Homo sapiens: one gene and its partners. The protein of the gene in region 1 interacts with the protein of each later gene in a biochemical or structural test. Each region holds a gene or a part of one and is shown on either strand. Other genes may lie near its edges.

The links.
Region 2: the proteins of RXRA (region 1) and TRIM24 form a complex in vitro, tested with the Homo sapiens proteins (3 studies listed by BioGRID).
Region 3: the proteins of RXRA (region 1) and NRIP1 form a complex in vitro, tested with the Homo sapiens proteins (2 studies listed by BioGRID).

The regions. Positions count from the first base shown.
Region 1 is NC_000009.12:134,427,438-134,434,463, forward strand, and holds part of RXRA (retinoic acid receptor RXR-alpha), read left to right. Parts: intron 1-1,670; coding exon 1,671-1,803; intron 1,804-4,467; coding exon 4,468-4,559; intron 4,560-6,664; coding exon 6,665-6,770; intron 6,771-7,026. UniProt on the Homo sapiens protein: Receptor for retinoic acid that acts as a transcription factor.
Region 2 is NC_000007.14:138,582,258-138,589,283, reverse strand, and holds part of TRIM24 (transcription intermediary factor 1-alpha), read right to left. Parts: intron 5,435-7,026; coding exon 5,285-5,434; intron 4,543-5,284; coding exon 4,333-4,542; 3' UTR 1-4,332. UniProt on the Homo sapiens protein: Transcriptional coactivator that interacts with numerous nuclear receptors and coactivators and modulates the transcription of target genes.
Region 3 is NC_000021.9:14,963,976-14,971,001, reverse strand, and holds part of NRIP1 (nuclear receptor-interacting protein 1), read left to right. Parts: intron 1-2,475; 5' UTR 2,476-2,809; coding exon 2,810-6,286; 3' UTR 6,287-7,026. UniProt on the Homo sapiens protein: Modulates transcriptional activation by steroid receptors such as NR3C1, NR3C2 and ESR1. Also modulates transcriptional repression by nuclear hormone receptors.

The sequences.
Region 1 (7,026 bases):
TTTCCATCAGACCGCCCGTGGTGCCGTCTGCATGCTCCCACGGTGATGGGGCACAGACCCCACCGTTCCTCCCTCATTTTGGTTGCACAGCCTGGGGCCAGTTGGGTGCCATCCCTGCCTGGTCTGTCAGCACACCTGGGCGGGGCGGCCTCGGGGGTGGGAACTCCCTCCTGGGGCCCTGGGATTACTCAGTTGTGAAATGGGGAGAATGGGGACGGTGACACCTGCCCCCGGGTTCCCCATGACAGGGTGGGTATGTGCTGGGAGGGTGTGGAGGGCCGAGCCGGAGCTGGCACGGTGGTCCCCACCAACTTCTTGCTGATCACTTACCCCCTCATGCCTCAGTTTCCCCCTCTGTAAAACAAAGTTAATGCCAGTTTTCCAGGATTACAGTTGGGATTAAGTGGGAAATTAATGACAGTGTCGGCCATAGAGGCTGGAGCCTCTAGAGCGCTCAGGGAGTGTGGAAGGTGCTGAAGGTGACTGTGTGACTGCAGGTGACTCCATGTCACCCTGTCTATAAGAGCTGTTAAAACAGCAGTGCGTGTGTGCGCGAGGGTCCCTGACTGTGTGACTGCAGGTGATTCCACGTCACCCGGTCTCCAGGAGCCCTTAAAACAGCAGTGCGTGTGCACGCGAGGGTCCCTGTTTCTTCCTCCCCGATGCCTGCTCTGCTTCATCTGCACTGGAACCTCATGTTGAGGGGCTGCTGTTACCTAACTGTCTGCCCCCCAGGGAACCCCCACTATGTTGAGAGGCTGCTGTTACCTAACCACCCGCCCCAGGGAACCCCCACTGTGTTGAGGGGCTGCTGTTACCTAACCACCTGACCCCCAGGGAACCCCCACTATGTTGAGGGGCTGCTGTTACCTAACTGTCCCCCAGGGAACCCCCTGATGTTGAGGGGCTGCTGTTACCTAACTGTCTGCCCCCCAGGGAACCCCCACTATGTTGAGAGGCTGCTGTTACCTAACCACCCGCCCCAGGGAACCCCCACTATGTTGAGGGGCTGCTGTTACCTAACCACCCACCCCCCAGGGAACCCCCCGATGTTGAGGGGCTGCTGTTACCTAACCACCCGCCCCAGGGAACCCCCACTATGTTGAGGGGCTGCTGTTACCTAACCACCCGCCCCAGGGAACCCCCACTATGTTGAGGGGCTGCTGTTACCTAACCTTCCCCCCTGGGAATCCCCCCGAAAGAGGCTGCGGCTCTCACGCACCTGCCTTCAGTTGGATAACCTGCTGTTTGGTGGCATTCCACGAAGGGCACACAGATCCCCGAGAGTCCTGGGACCCTGCTGGCAGCAGTGGTTCTGGGGCCATCCTGGGAACATCCCTGGGTGCTCTCCCACGTGCTCCGTGGCAGGAGTGTCCTGCACACGCGGGAGGAAGCTTCTGGGGCACATGAGTTTGTGAGCTCCCGGGTTCCACAAAGCTCAAGGGACTTTGTGTGGGACTTCTCAGGGCCTTTCGTGTGCCGGTGTGTACTGTAGAACGGGCATTCTCAGGAACCTCTTTTCTGTGGAACACTTCATGGGATTGGGGTTCCAGAGCCTGTCAGGATGGGTCGGTGACATGCTGCCTCTGTAGGGTCCCACCAGGGGCTGGGGAAGGGGCGAGCCCCGTGGGGCCTGGAGACAGCTGAGTGACTGTGTGCCTCCTCCCCAGGCTGGAATGAGCTGCTCATCGCCTCCTTCTCCCACCGCTCCATCGCCGTGAAGGACGGGATCCTCCTGGCCACCGGGCTGCACGTCCACCGGAACAGCGCCCACAGCGCAGGGGTGGGCGCCATCTTTGACAGGTGGGGGTGGTCCCGGGAGGGGCGAGGGCGCTTCGGTCACCTCCGCCACCAGGCCAGCTGAGTTCAGCCACCTTGGCCCCGGTGCACATCCTGCCTAGTATTATTTCAGTGCATGAAGGGTGCACACATGGAAAAAGAGAAAAGCATGAGGAGGAGGCTCAGAGCCCTGTGCCAGCCCTGCCTCTGGGGCATCTGTAACCACAGGGAGCACTTGGCCTATCTCCCTCCATCTCTTCTTTTTTCACGATCCCATGTATTTATCCGTGGGAAGGAAAGCTTCGTTTCTTTTTAAAGTGATTATACCGTAGATGCAGTTTTGTAAAAGTGTCAATTCCAGTTGGCATGTCGCAGGCTGCTTGAGGCTGGCACGGTAATGCCGTGGCAGCCCGGGGCGTGGTGCGGCCTAACGCCTGTCCCCGTGCAGGCAGGGGTGTCGGGACCGCAGTGCTTCACACCTCCCAGTGGAGCAAAGGGCTGCACCTCAGCCACTTCTCAGGGGACACACTGGAGGAGCAGCACTGGCTGGAGGGCCCACCCTCGTCCGGGCCTGGGTGGTCCGTGTCCGTTCATGTTGCCCTCCTGGAGTGCTGGCCAACTCCGCTCTGCCAGGCGAGGCGGACAGTAGCTTCCTTGTCCCTGTCTCTGCACAGCCTTTTTTTTTTTGAGATGGAGTCTCGCTCTGTCGCCCAGGCTAGATTGCAGTGGTGCAATCTTGGCTCACTGCAAGCTCCGCCTCCCGGGTTCACACCATTCTCCTGCCTCAGCCTCCCGAGTAGCTGGAACTACAGGCGCCCGCCACCACGCCCGGCTATTTTTTTTGTATTTTTAGTAGAGACGGGGTTTCACCGTGTTAGCCAGGATGGTCTCGATCTCCTGACCTCGTGATCCGCCCACCTCGGCCTCCCAAAGTGCTGGGATTACAGGCGTGAGCCGCCGCGCCCGGCCTCTCTGCACAGTCTTTCTCCACGAGTCTAGAGAGCCACACACACCAGACTGGGCCTTCTGGGGACCGGATGTCAGCTTCAGCTGGAGCGGGAAGGCTGGGGAGGGGCACTGCGGGGTCCCTTGGGCAGGGGTCTGCAACACAGGAGCCGTGGGTGGGGAGGAGCAGGCCACCTGGAGAACGTGGCCCCTGAACACGAGAGCCCCAACGTTAGAGGTGAGTAGAGGCCATGCACCGGCACTTACAGGGGGATTAATGCCCCAGCAGCAATGCCCCAGGGGGTGGTTCAGGTCCCAGAGTCCCAAGGGTGATCCTGGAACTTGACCTCCATGGGATGTGCCAAGTGCAAAAGGGTTTGTGGCCGCAGACGGTGGGCAAACGGTAGTTCAAACAGTGTCCTTGAGGGTCTTTGCCGCAGGACTTGTCAGGGCCTTTAAGAAGTTAGTGTACAGGAGGGTCCCCACGGGGGCTGCAGGGTGCAGTGTGCAGTGTGTATTGCCCACAGAAGCTTCTTTAGAGGGGTACTGGGGATATGGCTTTGGGAAGCGAAGCCCCAGCCACTTGCCCAGCTGACAGATCCTTTGTCTGGCTGGTAGAGAGATGGCGATGACAGAGGTTTCAGGGTTACATTCTCTGGGGTCCCACAGCAGTGACTACAGAGGCCCCGGCATTTCCTCGCCTTTTTTGCGAGTGGAATGCAAAGTCTGCCCTCAGTGGCCCAGGTCTTTTCCATGCCCGCTGCCCCATCCCTCTGCAGCTGTGTGCTCCTGCCTCAGAGCAGACATCGGGGGTCCCTCCCAGCTCCTGTTCTGTCCCACCCTGTTCTCCAGCCTCCTTCAGATCTTCTTCCAGGAATCAACCAGGGCACTCCCCATTCTGCAGACCCTCAGGGCCGCCCTTGGCCCACAGGGGAGAGCCCAGGCTCCTTAGGCAACCATCCCCACCTGGTCACCTCCTTTCCCCCGCTGTGGCCCACCCTTACTTCCTGGACACAGCAGTTGAGCTTTGGGGTTGGTGGGCAGGCTGCTGAGGCTAGGGGGCCCAGTACACTGCAGAGGCTGGTGTGATTCAGAATCCAGCTGCAGGGCTGGGGCAGCTGAGTCTGAATCCAAGAACGCCCCCAGCGTCTCCATGGAGGGAGCTGGCGGGCTTTCCCCGTGTTGAGGCTGGTGGATTTTTTTTCTCTGGTGACAAGAAGTAGACATGCCTCCCTCTGGCAGCCCCCACCCAGGGACACCAGGCCCTGGGGAAAGGTATCTTCCTGGACTGAAGGGAGCGGCTGGGGCTGTGGCATGGGAAGGGGCTTTGCCTCAGGTGGTGCTGGGTCCACAGCTGAGGAGGGACAGTGGTGTGTCTCACTGGGTTCGGGAGGGGTGGACTCTGTGCCCTCTGTGCAGCTGCGGCTCACCTCAGTTTAGCTGTCACGAGGCCCCTCCTTAGCACCTCGGTTCCCAGAATAAAGCCCCGCAGGCAGACCCTAGAGGGAGAGGAGAGGAGCCCACCCTCCGGGCAGGGCCAGGCAGGCCTGGCAGGGGCGGCACCTGGGCCTGGGTTCCAGCCCACTCCCTCTCGGGGTGTCTGGGAGTCCTTGCCTTGGCTTGGCCCATCTCAGCGGCCCTCGGGCCACGCCGGGCTCTCCAGAGGCCTTGGGTATCTGGGGTGTGGCCCTGGTGAGGGCTGCGACCTAACTGGGATGGGGTGTCTGCCCTCCTCCTCTGCAGGGTGCTGACGGAGCTTGTGTCCAAGATGCGGGACATGCAGATGGACAAGACGGAGCTGGGCTGCCTGCGCGCCATCGTCCTCTTTAACCCTGGTATGGCCTTCCTGCCTTGAGGCTTCTGGCCCCGTTCTCTGGTGGGGCAGAGGTGCCTGGGCCTCCTCCTGGCTGTACTTCTTGCCTCTGGCTACATGTGGGGCCAACTCCCACCCTCCTTGAGCTCAGTGTGCCCCCCTCCCAGTGAAAGTGTGGCCATGCTGCCTTCTGCTCACCTTGAGGGCCAGCCAAGGGGGCATGGTCCCTGGGCACAGGGGGACCCAGCAAGGCAGTTGTCATGAGGGGCTTGGTGGTGCCGTCTGGGCTCCGCGGTTCATAGTGTTCATCACTGTGCGTCGGAATCCAGACTCCGAAAGTGGCCAGCTGTGGTTGTGAACTTCCGGTGCTGAAGTTCAGGAGTCCCAAGCCCTGCAGGCTGGGGATGGGTCAGGCCTGCCGGGTGTTCCAGAGGGGACCAACCTCATCCCCAAGCCTCGGGTCCAGGGTGTTTCTGGGGCTGGGCCCCTGTGGTTGAGGAGAGCAGGGCTTGGGGCTGTGGGGCTGGGGCTGGGCACAGGCCTCCTGGCCGACAGTGCGGCCCTTCTCCAGCCTCTGGGTTCTCGGCTTGAAAAGCCTCCTAGGTGCTACTCCTTCGCCCAACAAGTGCTGACACGTGCCTGTTTGCTCGGTGCCCTGCTGGCATGGGAGGGCCCCTTCAAGCTGCTGGATAGGGCTTGCCTGCCTAGAGCTTGGGGTTTAGAGGGTCACGCCCACCAGCAGGCACCCCCGGCACGTGAGGGCAGGAGCACGGTTGGTCGAGGGTGCGGGCCACTTCCTCCGGGAGCTGCAAGTTAGGGGCCAGGGGAGTGAGAGGCACGGAGGTGGGGTGGGCTGGTGGAGGCAGCCCAGGCAGGGCCTTGAAAGTCTTGCTAAGTTTGGGTTTTTTCTTGGGGCCACAGGGAGCCAAGTCCTGAGGGGTTCCAGCCGGGAGGGAGCTATGGGTTTCTGTGTTTGGAAACTCAGCTCATTGCGTGATAGGGGCAGGTGGCTGGGGTGTGGAGGGAGAGGTTTGGGGCTGCTGTGGGGAGCTCACTTGGGCTATGGTGGAGGGAGTGGAGCCCTCTCGGCTCCTGGCCCTGACCTTCTGACCTTGCCCTTTGTCAGACCTGGCTCTGAGGGACCGGGCCGGGATGGAGATGGGCATCTTCTTGTGGGGAGAGCTTGTTTCCAGGGTCATTTTATCACCCAGGCTGTGCATCCGGGCCGTAATCCTGCCAGCTCGGAGGCTGAGTCATGCCACGGCCCGGCCCGGCCCGAGGAATCCCCATTCAGGTCCTGTGTGGTCTGGTTGCTAGAGCTGGGGCACCAGCAGGACCTGGGCACCGGCTTGCAGGGAGGGTGAGATTGTCTGGCACAAGCAGGGTCCAGGCACAGGCTTGCAGGGAAAGCGAAGAGACCAGGGCACAGGCATGCAGGGAGGGCGAGGAGACTGGCTGGAGCGGAGGCAGCTGGGGGAGCCAGGTACGTTGCCAAGGAGCCCAGGACACAGGCCAAGGTGGCATTCACAGGGGGTCCCTGGGCCTTGGGGGCCAAGGTGGCATTCACAGGGGGTCCCTGGGCCTTGGAGGTTTTGGTGGCTGCAATCTTAGCCTCTCTGTCCACTCTAGGCTCTTGAGCCCGGGTCCTGAGCTCAGGACTCCGCAAGCACACCGAGGATGGGTTTCCGCAGGGTCTGGGTACTCCTGGGGGCAGCAGCGCTATCTCCCATCCATGTTATGGGGCTGGGACCCAAGGGCAGCAGCAGCATCCATTGTCTCTCCCAGTTCCCAAGGCGGCTGGAAGGAAGGCAGCAGATCCCTGACACTTTATCGATGGGGAAACCGAGTCTCTGGAGGTCAAATAGTTGACCCAAGGTCACGTGGCTGGCAAGTGGCAGAGCTGAGCCTGGACCCAGAGCAGCCTGGCCTGGCCGTGGGTTCCACAGTCGTCCCCCTGCCACCAGGCTCTGGGGGAGCGGGCGGAGGCATGTCCAGCGGCATTCCTCCACCACCTGCTCTGCCCATGGTGGGGCAGCCTGGGAGACCCCACACAAGCCTGGGTCCTGGGGGCAGGTGCCCGAGACACGCCCCAGCTGAGGGTTCTGACCTGTGGCTTCTTCCTTTCAGACTCCAAGGGGCTCTCGAACCCGGCCGAGGTGGAGGCGCTGAGGGAGAAGGTCTATGCGTCCTTGGAGGCCTACTGCAAGCACAAGTACCCAGAGCAGCCGGGAAGGTGGGTCCCGCCCCGTCCCACACACACCCCAGACCCAGGCTCTTGTCTCCAGAGCCCCCACCCCCTGCAAGGCCATTTTATGTGAATGAGAAGGTGGCACCCTCCCCAGGCCCAGCCCATGCCAGCAGGTCCTGAGCAGGCAGCAGGAGGTCCTCCAGGCCAGTGGGCTGTGGCGGGCACACCCCACAGGCCCACGTCGTATCCCCACTGGAAGGATTACCTTGCACCTGGCGCATAGTAGGTGCTTCTCTTTGTT
Region 2 (7,026 bases), on another chromosome or scaffold:
TCTCAATAAGTAAAACCTTCATGGAGAAAAATCTGTGATCTGACTGACTAGCATTATTCTCACTCAGAAACATGACACCAGTATGTGAATTACAACAGTAAATTCACATTCAAGATGAATATGCAATAAACATTTATAAAAAGACATCAACTATTAATTTACATAGGGCTATAAAATACTTTTAAAAATATGTACATGGTTATTCAAAAGGAGGAGCTCAATTTCAGTAAGAAATTATATGGTTGAACGCATGGTCACCATTTTTTTTTTTTTTTGAGACAGAGTTTTGCTCTTGTTGCCCAGGCTGGAGTGCAATGGTGCAATCTCGACTCACTGCAACCTCCACCTCCTGGGTTCAAGCTATTCTCCTGCCTCAGCATCCCAAAGTAGCTGAGATTACAGGCACCCGCCACCACACCCAGCTAATTTTTTTGTATATTCTGTTGAGGTGGGGTTTCACCATGTTGGCCAGGCTGGTCTTGAGCTCCTGACTTCAGGTGATCCACCCACCTCGGCCTCCCAAAGTGCTGGGATTACAGGTGTGAGCCACCGCGCCCGGCCATTCCCCATAATTTTTCTTTTTGTGACAGAGTCTTGCTCTGACACCCAGGCTGGACTACAGTGGTGCGATCTCAGCTCACTGCAACCTCTGCCTCCTGGGTTCAAGCCGATTCTCCTGCCTCAGCCTCCCGAGTAGCTAGGATTACAGGCATGGGCCACCACACCCTGGTGATTTTGGTATTTTTAGTAGAGATGGGGTTTCACCATGTTGGTCAGGCTGGTCTCAAACTCCTGACCTCAGGTATCTACCCACCTCGGCCTCCCAAAGTGCTGGGATTACAGGCGTGAGCCACTGCGCCCGACCCATTCACCATAATTTTAATGGCCAATCAGATCACTCAATTTCTCTCATTCACAACAAATACATATAAAATGAATGTATCTTCAATTTAAACCTAAAACCTGTTGTTCATATGCAGCAATTTACTTTGGGGATTCACATTAATTTGGACCAGAGCTCAGCAAAAGGAGTTCCTCTTCTCACTCTCTCTCCTTGGAACTCAAACGTAAGGAAGTGTCTAAGCACAGTAACAGCATAGCATATTGAAATGCAGTTTCATAAATGCAACAATCAGCTGTATACTCCCCCTTTTTTTGACTATGGAGGTAACCTTTTTGAAAGCATTCCTAAGCAAGTTATACTACATCTACACTACTATGTGGTAGTAAAATATAGCAGTAGTAAAGCCAGTTCTTTAGCTTAGAAAAGAAACTAAAACTACATTTTCCTTTTTAGTACCTTCCACTTTCCTACCCTTCCATTCAGAAAAGACAAGCAGGGCATGTTAATTCAAAAGACAAAATGATTACAATGCCAGATACCGATCTAAAATGTATTCTGCGTTGAATATGGTCTACATCCATCCATTTATACTTTTGCCATGGCCATATATATCACTGGTCAAGTACTTGGGCTTCCTTACACAGGAAAAGTCAGTTGCTTGGCACCTAGAAAAGCTGTCAGTGAGGTGGAACTGAGTAAATCCTAGCTCCTACGTGGTCTGCTCATCCATAAGCCCTAGCCAGAAGTGTGATAAACATTCAGCAATGGGGCCCTACTGGGCTCCTGATCCCAAATCCAGAGGGAAATCTCCCAGAGTTTATGGTCAAAGATGTACACCGGAGTGTACAAGTTTAGGTCAAGGTTACCTGAATCGCACTGAACTTTTGGGGGAATGCTTGATAAGTGAGTGTGGGTTATAGTTAGGCTCATTTTATGGTTTATTTCTATTTGAACAGAATTTAAGGATGACTTAGCTGAGATCCACCTGGGCACACAGGTACTTATTAATAAAGTCAAAGGATATTAATCTAAAGACCATTACACAAAGGCTATTTACAGAGAGAAACCCAAGACCTTTACTTTTTGTTTTTGAGACTGAGTCTCTGTCACTCAGGCTGGAGTGCAATGGTGAGATCTTGGCTCACTGCAACTTCTGCCTCCTGCGTTCAAGTGATTCTCCTGTCTCAGCCTCCTGAGTAGTTGGGATTACAGTTGCACGCCACCATGTCCGGCTAATTTTTGTATTTTTTGTAGAGGCGGGGTTTCACAATGTTGGCCAGGCTGATCTCGAACTCTTGACTTTGTGATCCGCCCACCTTGGCCTCCCAAAGTGCTGGTGGGATTGCAGGTGTGAGCCACTGCGCCCAGCCCCGATCTTTACTTTTAATATAATTATATTATGTATGACCAAAAGATGGTTCTCAACTGCCTTTCATTCAGCCAAAGATGGTTAGGGTGAAACAAATACTGTTTTGAAAGATAAATATGGCACTGAATGTAATAGTGACAGTTTGGGGTTCATTAGTCACATTTAGGAAATTATAGTTTTAGTCTCACAAGTTCTAACTCCCTTTTGTGATGATTCTCAAAATAATTTATCTGTTTTGCTCTGTTTTAACTTGGGAGACAAGTATGGAAGAATAAACTGTCAGACGAACAGTATTCTAAGATACCAACAATAAAATTATCAGCAAAAGCTCCACAGCTGCTGTGCTAAAAATAAAATGCTGGAGCAAAAAAAGACAAAAGGTGTATGCACTGTTATCAAAATCTGTTCAAACACTCTTTGGAGAACAAATGTCAAATGCAACTTTAAAACAACAATGACAAACATTACCATGTAACACATATTTGAAAAGTGAGTAGGACTTTTTAACAATACATAATTGACATATTATGAACAAGACCTATATATATAAACAATGGGGATCTATTGCTAACAAGTTATTTTCTCCCTGTATTTTATCTTTAGCAGTACCTGAAAACCCAATGAATTAGCCACAGGATATTTTCCACTTTAAGAAGTAAAGCCATGTAGATAAAACCAAGTCTTCTATGTTAAATTTATGGCAGGTGATATAATGCAAATAATAGCCTTCTTTCAAGTGAGCTCTTTTTATTCTATCATCCTAAGGAGAAAAATTTACTCCAGTTAATGTTTTATAAATACAGATTAACTTCGGCAAACCATTTAGATATTGTGTCAAATGCTGGATTAATGTATGGCACAGCAATTTTCTTCTATCTATCTATCTATCTATATCAGCTGAACCGGGTAGGTCTGGCACATTAAGAATATGCTTGTCCTCAGAAGATAAGTCTTTTGTACCTCTATCAATCAATCAGAAGAATAAAATCAGAAGTCAGATCAAAGATTAAGTTTGATGTTCTGACTCTCAAAAGAAAAACATGAGATAGATGCTTCAGGAAAAAAAAAAAATCACTATTAATTCCCCCCAGCTGCCTGCTCCCAAAATCCTACAACACATTTTCATTCCAAATTATAGACAGATGAAAACCACAAAAACGAGTCCCTTTCAGAGGAACTTATATTTAATGCCCAGTAGGGTATATGATGAAGAACCCTCACATCAAATACAGTGCACGCTGCTGTATTTATATTTTGGGTAGTTCCACTAAAAGCTATACTGCAAACAATGAGGCTTGTTGTAAAAGGATCACCTGTACAATTAAACCTCACATAGACACACAGCAAACCCAAATGTATATACTTCCCTCAGTGGAAGAAGTTGAAAATCTAGATCTAGAAATGTATAAAAAATGGCCTTGAAAACCTGCTATACCAAAATACCTCTACAGACAAGATAAAAACAAAAACAAAAATCAAACATTTGTTTTCCGGATTTTTCTTTAATACAGTTGCCATCTTACATGATGTACTATTAAGTGCCTTCTTAATAGCATCTAACCTACCCTTCTGTTGCACCGTTTGGCCTCCTGGGATGGAACTCTTGTTACCACCCATGTTTGTGGAGTACTGTTCTTCAGTACAGTACACCTAATTCATATTGTCAGGCCATATAATTCACGGGTAGTGGTATTAATTTCTAAAGCTGAATTAAAGCACACATCCAAACCACATATATTTTTTACTTTTCAACTTAAAGAGTTCATACAAAGTCTATTTCCTTTCTACAGTAGCTATCACTCCAGACTGTGGTTTAAAAATCCAAGAAGTGGGAAGAATGTCTTTGTTTTCAATGCTTCTTTCTTCCATCCTTTTTCTATCCTCCTTTTTTCCTTCTTTCCATTTTCTTTCTTCTATTCATCTCCTTCTTTCCTTTCTTTCTTAGTGATAAGAGGTTAACAGAAATGGGCTATTAAGGAAATCAAAGTCTAGTAAACGTCCAAAACAGAGATGAGAATAGTCACAAACTCTTCTTTTTGTAGTGATGTTAAATTACTGACAAATGTTTTTTTGAAAACAAAAAAATCTAAAAACCAGCACAAGCTAGTGGTGCTGCATATTATTTAAGCAACTGGCGTTCTTCAATGCTTTTGAGGCGTTTCTTCCGGGGCTGTACAAAGTCATCATCTGAATCATCACTAAATTTATTATCTTCTGATTCATTCCTGAATTCTGGTTTGGGAAACCTTTTTTCTGGATAGAGGTTCTTTAGAAGTTCTTCAAAATAATTTTCAAGTTTTATACCAGCATTGGCTACTTCTGAATCAGGCTGTGGAGTAAAAATAAAAATGAGTAAAAAAAGGACACACTTTTGACTTCTGAGATTATATATATTAATGAGCTGTTTTGAAAAGTGTTCATGCATAGTCATTGAAATAATAGTTTAGGACTAGACAAAGTCTCTGTACAGAAGGCCAGCTAAAATAAAAGATTCAGAAGTGTGGAAAAAAGATAAAAGTAAAAGCCTGGATTATTCTAAAAGAAGGTGGTAATGGTAGGACTATATTGCCAAACACATATCAGTTAGGATTCCATAACCATAGGATCATGAACCAGGTATTTTTAGAACAAATTAAATGTAGTACTATTAGAATGAGTAACAGAGAACAAACCACCAGCAGCAAAAGGTTCTAAGTCTGACTGATGTGTAGATGAACTGACAGATGAGAAATTTTTAAATTAGAGCTATTTGGCCCACATCCTTAATATTTCAAGATCAACATAAAAATAAGAAATACAGGTGGGAATGATAAAGAATATGTCTAGGTCAGAGAAAAACATTTTGTCTTTCAGTTATCAGCTGTAATTTGCATTTCCATCACCATCTAATAAACCTTTGAATATAAATGTGGACAGAGTTATCTGAATTATCTCTTGCATTCCCTGATCTGAAAAGTTGGAAATTTATTCTAACTCAGACATCTTGGTCTCCTATGTTGACAAGGTGTTTAGTAATAAAATGATTTTCACACTGCTGTTCCTTCCTGCCCCCTTCCCTCCCCTAGCCTCACCTCATTGAATTCAGCACAGTTTTGAAAGATCAATCTAAAATCAGCTACAAAATCTTCAGGTTTTGAGTACATGGAATAATCTTCTTGTAGTCTTTTCTTGATGGTTGACAAATCCATTGGATTTTTAATTATTTTGTAATAATCAGGCACCTATTAAAAAAATGAGATGTTATAATACAAATAGCTAAATTCCACCTTGTCCTAAATATATTCTATGAGATGTGCTCTAAAATTCAGAATGTTCTCATTGCTTTTCTCTGTGCTATTTGCCATTAGTAAAGAAACCCATTTAACAGTGTTTACAAGTGCCCACTGCCTTCCACACACACTGGTAAAGGTTTGTGTGACTTTTTCCAAAAGTTTAACCAATTATTATTTTTGAGACAGGGTCTTGCTCTGTCACCCAGGCTGGAGTGCAGTGACACAATCTCGGCTCACTGCAAACTTTGCCTCCTGGGCTTAAGTGATCCTCTCACCTCAGCCTCTCGCGTAGCTGGGGTTACAGGCATGCGCTAACATAGCCGGCTAATTTTTGTATTTTTTGTAGAGATGGGGTTTTGCCATGTTGCCCAGGCTGGTCTCAAACTCCTGGGTTCAAGCAATCTGCCTGCCTCAGCCTCCCAAAATGTTGGGATTACAGGCGTGAGCCACTGCACCCAGCCCCAATTATTTTTAATGAAAAAACTTGTCTTCACATATTTCCTCTTAATCATCTAGATTTTTTTCTTCATTATTAAACAAAAAGCAATTACTAGGAAGAATATCATTTCTAGTAGAATCTGACATGTTTTTGCTGCATGTATTATACAAGAGGAAGAAGGACTTTGAATCTGGGTTTAATCCCCAGCTCTGCTGCTCAGTGTCATGGTCCTGGGTAAGCTACTTAACCTCAGTTTCTTCATATTTCAAATAGGGATAATCCTGCCAAACTCACAGCATTTTGTACAGACTAAATGAGATGATATTTATTAAGAAAAAGGGGGCTACTTTGTCATTGTTGGTATTAATAACGTAACTGTAAGCCAGGATAATAAAAAGTACAATTCAAGGTTACATTTTCAAGTTGGTAATGTTGTTACAAGCCTCTCGACTTCTTTACCCTGCCTCTTTTGGGTACAAAAGACCCTTCTCCCTGGAGGTATTTATTTCCTATATCAAGTTCTCAAAACCTGTTCTTAAGAGAGAAGCTGACTGTATTTACTAAGCTGATTTTCTTCTCAACTTTGTATTAATTTGAGATTTATCAAACTGTAGAACAAATGAAAAAAAATTTTTTTTTTGGGACAGAGTTTTGCTCTTGTTGCCCAGGCTGGAGAGCAATGGCGCAATCTCGGCTCACTGCAACCTCCGCCTCCGGGGTTCAGACATTAGAAGAATACTCTTTTGGGGTACCAGGCCCTTTCCAGCACTCTAAAATTATGCGTTAAAGTCACATCAAACTTTTTTTTTTTTTTTTTTGAGACGGAGTCTTGCTCTTTTGCCCAGGCTGGAGTGCAGTGGCATGATCTCGGCTCACTGCAAGCTCCGCCTCCCAGGTTCACGCCACTCTCCTGCCTCAGCCTCCCGAGTAGCTGGGACTACAGGCGCCTGCCACCACACCTGGCTAATTTTTTGTATTTTTAGTAGAGACGGGGTTTCACCGTGTTAGCCAGGATGGTCTCTATCTCCTGACCTCGTGATCCGCCCGCCTCGGCCTCCCAAAGTGCTGGGATTATAGGCGTGAGCCACCGCGCCCGGCCACA
Region 3 (7,026 bases), on another chromosome or scaffold:
ATAAATGGTAGAGAGGTAAATAAATGGTAAAATACAGTGTTAGAGCTCCTTTACAAGGAAACTGTGATAATTCCTTTTTAAATCAACTTCCAAATCTGCTTTGTAAATTCAGAAATGTGTAAATTCAGTCTTTTTAAAGCAATGAATAATACTTTGCAAATTATATCATGCACAGTAAAAAGTAGAAAGCAATAACAGGAGTAATATGAACTCAAAGATGCTCCTTATTTCATTCTTATTCTTAAATAAAGTATGTTTTATGGCTGTTTACAAACCAGTTTTCAAATGACTGGTATGATTTTGACTTTCTTGAGTCTACCCAAGAGCAAAAAGGTTGGCAGTGGTGTGGAGAGAAATACAGTGGACTTGCATATCCCATTAAATGGTTGTTAAATGTCTTAACTAGTTGAGAATTAATTGTATATTAGCAGTTGTTATTTTTGTTTTGTTTGTTTTGAGATAGAGTGTCATTCTGTCACCCAGGCTGGAGTGCAGTGGCACGATCTCGGCTCACTGCAACCTCTGCCTACCAGGTTCAAGCAATTCTTCTGCCTCAGCCTCCTGAGTAGCTGGGACTACAGGCGCATGCCACCATACCCGGCTAATTTTTGTATTTTTACTAGAGATGGGGTTTCACCATTTTGGTCAGGTTGGTCTCAAACTCCTGACCTCAGGCGATCCACCCACCTCGGCCTCCTAAATTGCTGGGATTACAGGTGTGAGCCACCGTACCTGGCCATATTAAGTTTTTTGAGAGAATTAGAAAACTGGGTTTCCTCAACTCCAAGATGTTATCAGTTGTAAAATGTACCCGTATGTTTTATACCACTAAGAAAGAAAAATAAGCCTCCAATTAAGCAACATGCCATCAATTGTAAAATATAACCAGAGGGGGGAGAAAAGTAGTGTTTAGCTGGGATACCTCCCTACTCCCTGAAAAACAAGTCAGGGTTTTATTAGTAAATGAAAATGGGAGAATGGATATTTGGTGGCAGTCATGATAACCATTTCATTTCTATATCATTATTAACCTCTTAAAATATCCATCTTAAGTACATTATGGCAAAGCTTCTTAAAATGGTGGCATTGGAATCTCAAGAAAGTCTCTTCTCATCCTACTCCTTACACAGTTGAAATTAATTGTTGCTGCCTCCTTTCTGTATCTTTTTCTTTGGCTATCATTTCTTATCCTTTTAATCAATAAATTCAACAATTTGATACAATCAGATAATTATTTCCTAAAGTTTGACTTAGAGTTAAGCATTGTACTTAAAAAGCTACAGGGTAGTCTTTCAATTAAAATTTATCTTTTAAATTCCATAGGGACCAAGGTATTTGTTGATAGCTTCAGGTCTGATAACTTAAACAAAATGTTCTGGCATCTTGAAAAACAAACTGCATGGAATTTATTCCAGCTTCTCTTCCAAAGGTGTCATGGCCCCCCTTCCTTAGGTCAATTTTGACACTTACCTATCAAGTTTTCAGAAATGCAATGAGTTCTTGCTTCTTCTGTTGTGTATGTGTTAGTGATAGGAAATTTTTTGGTCTCTTCTTAGATAATAAATATCATTGGAATATTTTTCAAACTGTGACTAAAATGTCTTTGGCATTCTCCATTGTACTTTTTATATATGTTTATGCCCTCCCTGTCTTCTGTATCTGTAAGGAATGGACCTGACATTAAGACTTCTCCATAGAGCACATGAGTAAGGATTTACTAACGAACTACATTAAACCCTTGATAGCCCTGAACAAGCATCTAAAGAATCACTCCTCTCTGTCTTTAATAAGTCATGGTAAAAAGTATGGGTAGGTAAGTTTATGACTGTATTTTAATGTTTATGAATATGATTAAGATGGTCACACTTTGAACAGACTCACAAAATAATCTTCAACTTGTTAGTGGTTTCATTTTTTTGAAAACGGAAATTCTAAAAATTACTTATGGAATGTCTGGTGTTTGGGGGATGATGTCAGAAATGAATCTGTTCTGTTGGCCTCAACCCCACATCAGACTCATCAGAGTCTGCATCTCTTTTCCTTTTTCTGCACATCTACTTTTGTTTCTTCCTAAGTGCCCAGTAATGTAAGGAAGCAAGTTCTAGTTCCCCTGTAGAGCTATAAAGCTATAAAGGAGACTGAACATTCACATTACTTTGCAGAAAGGTGCTTATGAAAATTCAGAGACTTGGCGGCTTTGGAAGATGGCTATGTAACATTAAAGTATGTTCTCTTCTCTAATGATTTGATCATTTTAACAGTATGCATTAACCCACAGGATTTCCAGTAGACATTTTCAATTGAATAGGAACGGCAATAAAACAAATTACTAAAGTGACTATAATCCATTTATATGTCTATTATTTATATGTAATATATATATACATTTACAGATGCTATATTATTTTGCTTGTAGGTATCATAACGTGATTCTAGTTCTGCCTCCTTAACTATTCTTATTTTTATTTTTTTTAGAACACTGATATTTGCATTTAATGGGGAACAAAAGATGAAGAAGGAAAAGGAATATATTCACTAAGGATTCTATCTGCTTACTGCTACAGACCTATGTGTTAAGGAATTCTTCTCCTCCTCCTTGCGTAGAAGTTGATCAGCACTGTGGTCAGACTGCATTTATCTTGTCATTGCCAGAAGAAATCTTGGACAGAATGTAACAGTACGTCTCTCTCTGATTGCGATGGAAGGTGATAAACTGATACTCCTTTATTAAAGTTACATCGCACTCACCACAGAAAACCATTCTTTAAAGTGAATAGAAACCAAGCCCTTGTGAACACTTCTATTGAACATGACTCATGGAGAAGAGCTTGGCTCTGATGTGCACCAGGATTCTATTGTTTTAACTTACCTAGAAGGATTACTAATGCATCAGGCAGCAGGGGGATCAGGTACTGCCGTTGACAAAAAGTCTGCTGGGCATAATGAAGAGGATCAGAACTTTAACATTTCTGGCAGTGCATTTCCCACCTGTCAAAGTAATGGTCCAGTTCTCAATACACATACATATCAGGGGTCTGGCATGCTGCACCTCAAAAAAGCCAGACTGTTGCAGTCTTCTGAGGACTGGAATGCAGCAAAGCGGAAGAGGCTGTCTGATTCTATCATGAATTTAAACGTAAAGAAGGAAGCTTTGCTAGCTGGCATGGTTGACAGTGTGCCTAAAGGCAAACAGGATAGCACATTACTGGCCTCTTTGCTTCAGTCATTCAGCTCTAGGCTGCAGACTGTTGCTCTGTCACAACAAATCAGGCAGAGCCTCAAGGAGCAAGGATATGCCCTCAGTCATGATTCTTTAAAAGTGGAGAAGGATTTAAGGTGCTATGGTGTTGCATCAAGTCACTTAAAAACTTTGTTGAAGAAAAGTAAAGTTAAAGATCAAAAGCCTGATACGAATCTTCCTGATGTGACTAAAAACCTCATCAGAGATAGGTTTGCAGAGTCTCCTCATCATGTTGGACAAAGTGGAACAAAGGTCATGAGTGAACCGTTGTCATGTGCTGCAAGATTACAGGCTGTTGCAAGCATGGTGGAAAAAAGGGCTAGTCCTGCCACCTCACCTAAACCTAGTGTTGCTTGTAGCCAGTTAGCATTACTTCTGTCAAGCGAAGCCCATTTGCAGCAGTATTCTCGAGAACACGCTTTAAAAACGCAAAATGCAAATCAAGCAGCAAGTGAAAGACTTGCTGCTATGGCCAGATTGCAAGAAAATGGCCAGAAGGATGTTGGCAGTTACCAGCTCCCAAAAGGAATGTCAAGCCATCTTAATGGTCAGGCAAGAACATCATCAAGCAAACTGATGGCTAGCAAAAGTAGTGCTACAGTGTTTCAAAATCCAATGGGTATCATTCCTTCTTCCCCTAAAAATGCAGGTTATAAGAACTCACTGGAAAGAAACAATATAAAACAAGCTGCTAACAATAGTTTGCTTTTACATCTTCTTAAAAGCCAGACTATACCTAAGCCAATGAATGGACACAGTCACAGTGAGAGAGGAAGCATTTTTGAGGAAAGTAGTACACCTACAACTATTGATGAATATTCAGATAACAATCCTAGTTTTACAGATGACAGCAGTGGTGATGAAAGTTCTTATTCCAACTGTGTTCCCATAGACTTGTCTTGCAAACACCGAACTGAAAAATCAGAATCTGACCAACCTGTTTCCCTGGATAACTTCACTCAATCCTTGCTAAACACTTGGGATCCAAAAGTCCCAGATGTAGATATCAAAGAAGATCAAGATACCTCAAAGAATTCTAAGCTAAACTCACACCAGAAAGTAACACTTCTTCAATTGCTACTTGGCCATAAGAATGAAGAAAATGTAGAAAAAAACACCAGCCCTCAGGGAGTACACAATGATGTGAGCAAGTTCAATACACAAAATTATGCAAGGACTTCTGTGATAGAAAGCCCCAGTACAAATCGGACTACTCCAGTGAGCACTCCACCTTTACTTACATCAAGCAAAGCAGGGTCTCCCATCAATCTCTCTCAACACTCTCTGGTCATCAAATGGAATTCCCCACCATATGTCTGCAGTACTCAGTCTGAAAAGCTAACAAATACTGCATCTAACCACTCAATGGACCTTACAAAAAGCAAAGACCCACCAGGAGAGAAACCAGCCCAAAATGAAGGTGCACAGAACTCTGCAACGTTTAGTGCCAGTAAGCTGTTACAAAATTTAGCACAATGTGGAATGCAGTCATCCATGTCAGTGGAAGAGCAGAGACCCAGCAAACAGCTGTTAACTGGAAACACAGATAAACCGATAGGTATGATTGATAGATTAAATAGCCCTTTGCTCTCAAATAAAACAAATGCAGTTGAAGAAAATAAAGCATTTAGTAGTCAACCAACAGGTCCTGAACCAGGGCTTTCTGGTTCTGAAATAGAAAATCTGCTTGAAAGACGTACTGTCCTCCAGTTGCTCCTGGGGAACCCCAACAAAGGGAAGAGTGAAAAAAAAGAGAAAACTCCCTTAAGAGATGAAAGTACTCAGGAACACTCAGAGAGAGCTTTAAGTGAACAAATACTGATGGTGAAAATAAAATCTGAGCCTTGTGATGACTTACAAATTCCTAACACAAATGTGCACTTGAGCCATGATGCTAAGAGTGCCCCATTCTTGGGTATGGCTCCTGCTGTGCAGAGAAGCGCACCTGCCTTACCAGTGTCCGAAGACTTTAAATCGGAGCCTGTTTCACCTCAGGATTTTTCTTTCTCCAAGAATGGTCTGCTAAGTCGATTGCTAAGACAAAATCAAGATAGTTACCTGGCAGATGATTCAGACAGGAGTCACAGAAATAATGAAATGGCACTTCTAGAATCAAAGAATCTTTGCATGGTCCCTAAGAAAAGGAAGCTTTATACTGAGCCATTAGAAAATCCATTTAAAAAGATGAAAAACAACATTGTTGATGCTGCAAACAATCACAGTGCCCCAGAAGTACTGTATGGGTCCTTGCTTAACCAGGAAGAGCTGAAATTTAGCAGAAATGATCTTGAATTTAAATATCCTGCTGGTCATGGCTCAGCCAGCGAAAGTGAACACAGGAGTTGGGCCAGAGAGAGCAAAAGCTTTAATGTTCTGAAACAGCTGCTTCTCTCAGAAAACTGTGTGCGAGATTTGTCCCCGCACAGAAGTAACTCTGTGGCTGACAGTAAAAAGAAAGGACACAAAAATAATGTGACCAACAGCAAACCTGAATTTAGCATTTCTTCTTTAAATGGACTGATGTACAGTTCCACTCAGCCCAGCAGTTGCATGGATAACAGGACATTTTCATACCCAGGTGTAGTAAAAACTCCTGTGAGTCCTACTTTCCCTGAGCACTTGGGCTGTGCAGGGTCTAGACCAGAATCTGGGCTTTTGAATGGGTGTTCCATGCCCAGTGAGAAAGGACCCATTAAGTGGGTTATCACTGATGCGGAGAAGAATGAGTATGAAAAAGACTCTCCAAGATTGACCAAAACCAACCCAATACTATATTACATGCTTCAAAAAGGAGGCAATTCTGTTACCAGTCGAGAAACACAAGACAAGGACATTTGGAGGGAGGCTTCATCTGCTGAAAGTGTCTCACAGGTCACAGCCAAAGAAGAGTTACTTCCTACTGCAGAAACGAAAGCTTCTTTCTTTAATTTAAGAAGCCCTTACAATAGCCATATGGGAAATAATGCTTCTCGCCCACACAGCGCAAATGGAGAAGTTTATGGACTTCTGGGAAGCGTGCTAACGATAAAGAAAGAATCAGAATAAAATGTACCTGCCATCCAGTTTTGGATCTTTTTAAAACTAATGAGTATGAACTTGAGATCTGTATAAATAAGAGCATGATTTGAAAAAAAGCATGGTATAATTGAAACTTTTTTCATTTTGAAAAGTATTGGTTACTGGTGATGTTGAAATATGCATACTAATTTTTGCTTAACATTAGATGTCATGAGGAAACTACTGAACTAGCAATTGGTTGTTTAACACTTCTGTATGCATCAGATAACAACTGTGAGTAGCCTATGAATGAAATTCTTTTATAAATATTAGGCATAAATTAAAATGTAAAACTCCATTCATAGTGGATTAATGCATTTTGCTGCCTTTATTAGGGTACTTTATTTTGCTTTTCAGAAGTCAGCCTACATAACACATTTTTAAAGTCTAAACTGTTAAACAACTCTTTAAAGGATAATTATCCAATAAAAAAAAACCTAGTGCTGATTCACAGCTTATTATCCAATTCAAAAATAAATTAGAAAAATATATGCTTACATTTTTCACTTTTGCTAAAAAGAAAAAAAAAAGGTGTTTATTTTTAACTCTTGGAAGAGGTTTTGTGGTTCCCAATGTGTCTGTCCCACCCTGATCCTTTTCAATATATATTTCTTTAAACCTTGTGCTACTTAGTAAAAATTGATTACAATTGAGGGAAGTTTGATAGATCCTTTAAAAAAAAGGCAGATTTCCATTTTTTGTATTTTAACTACTTTACTAAATTAATA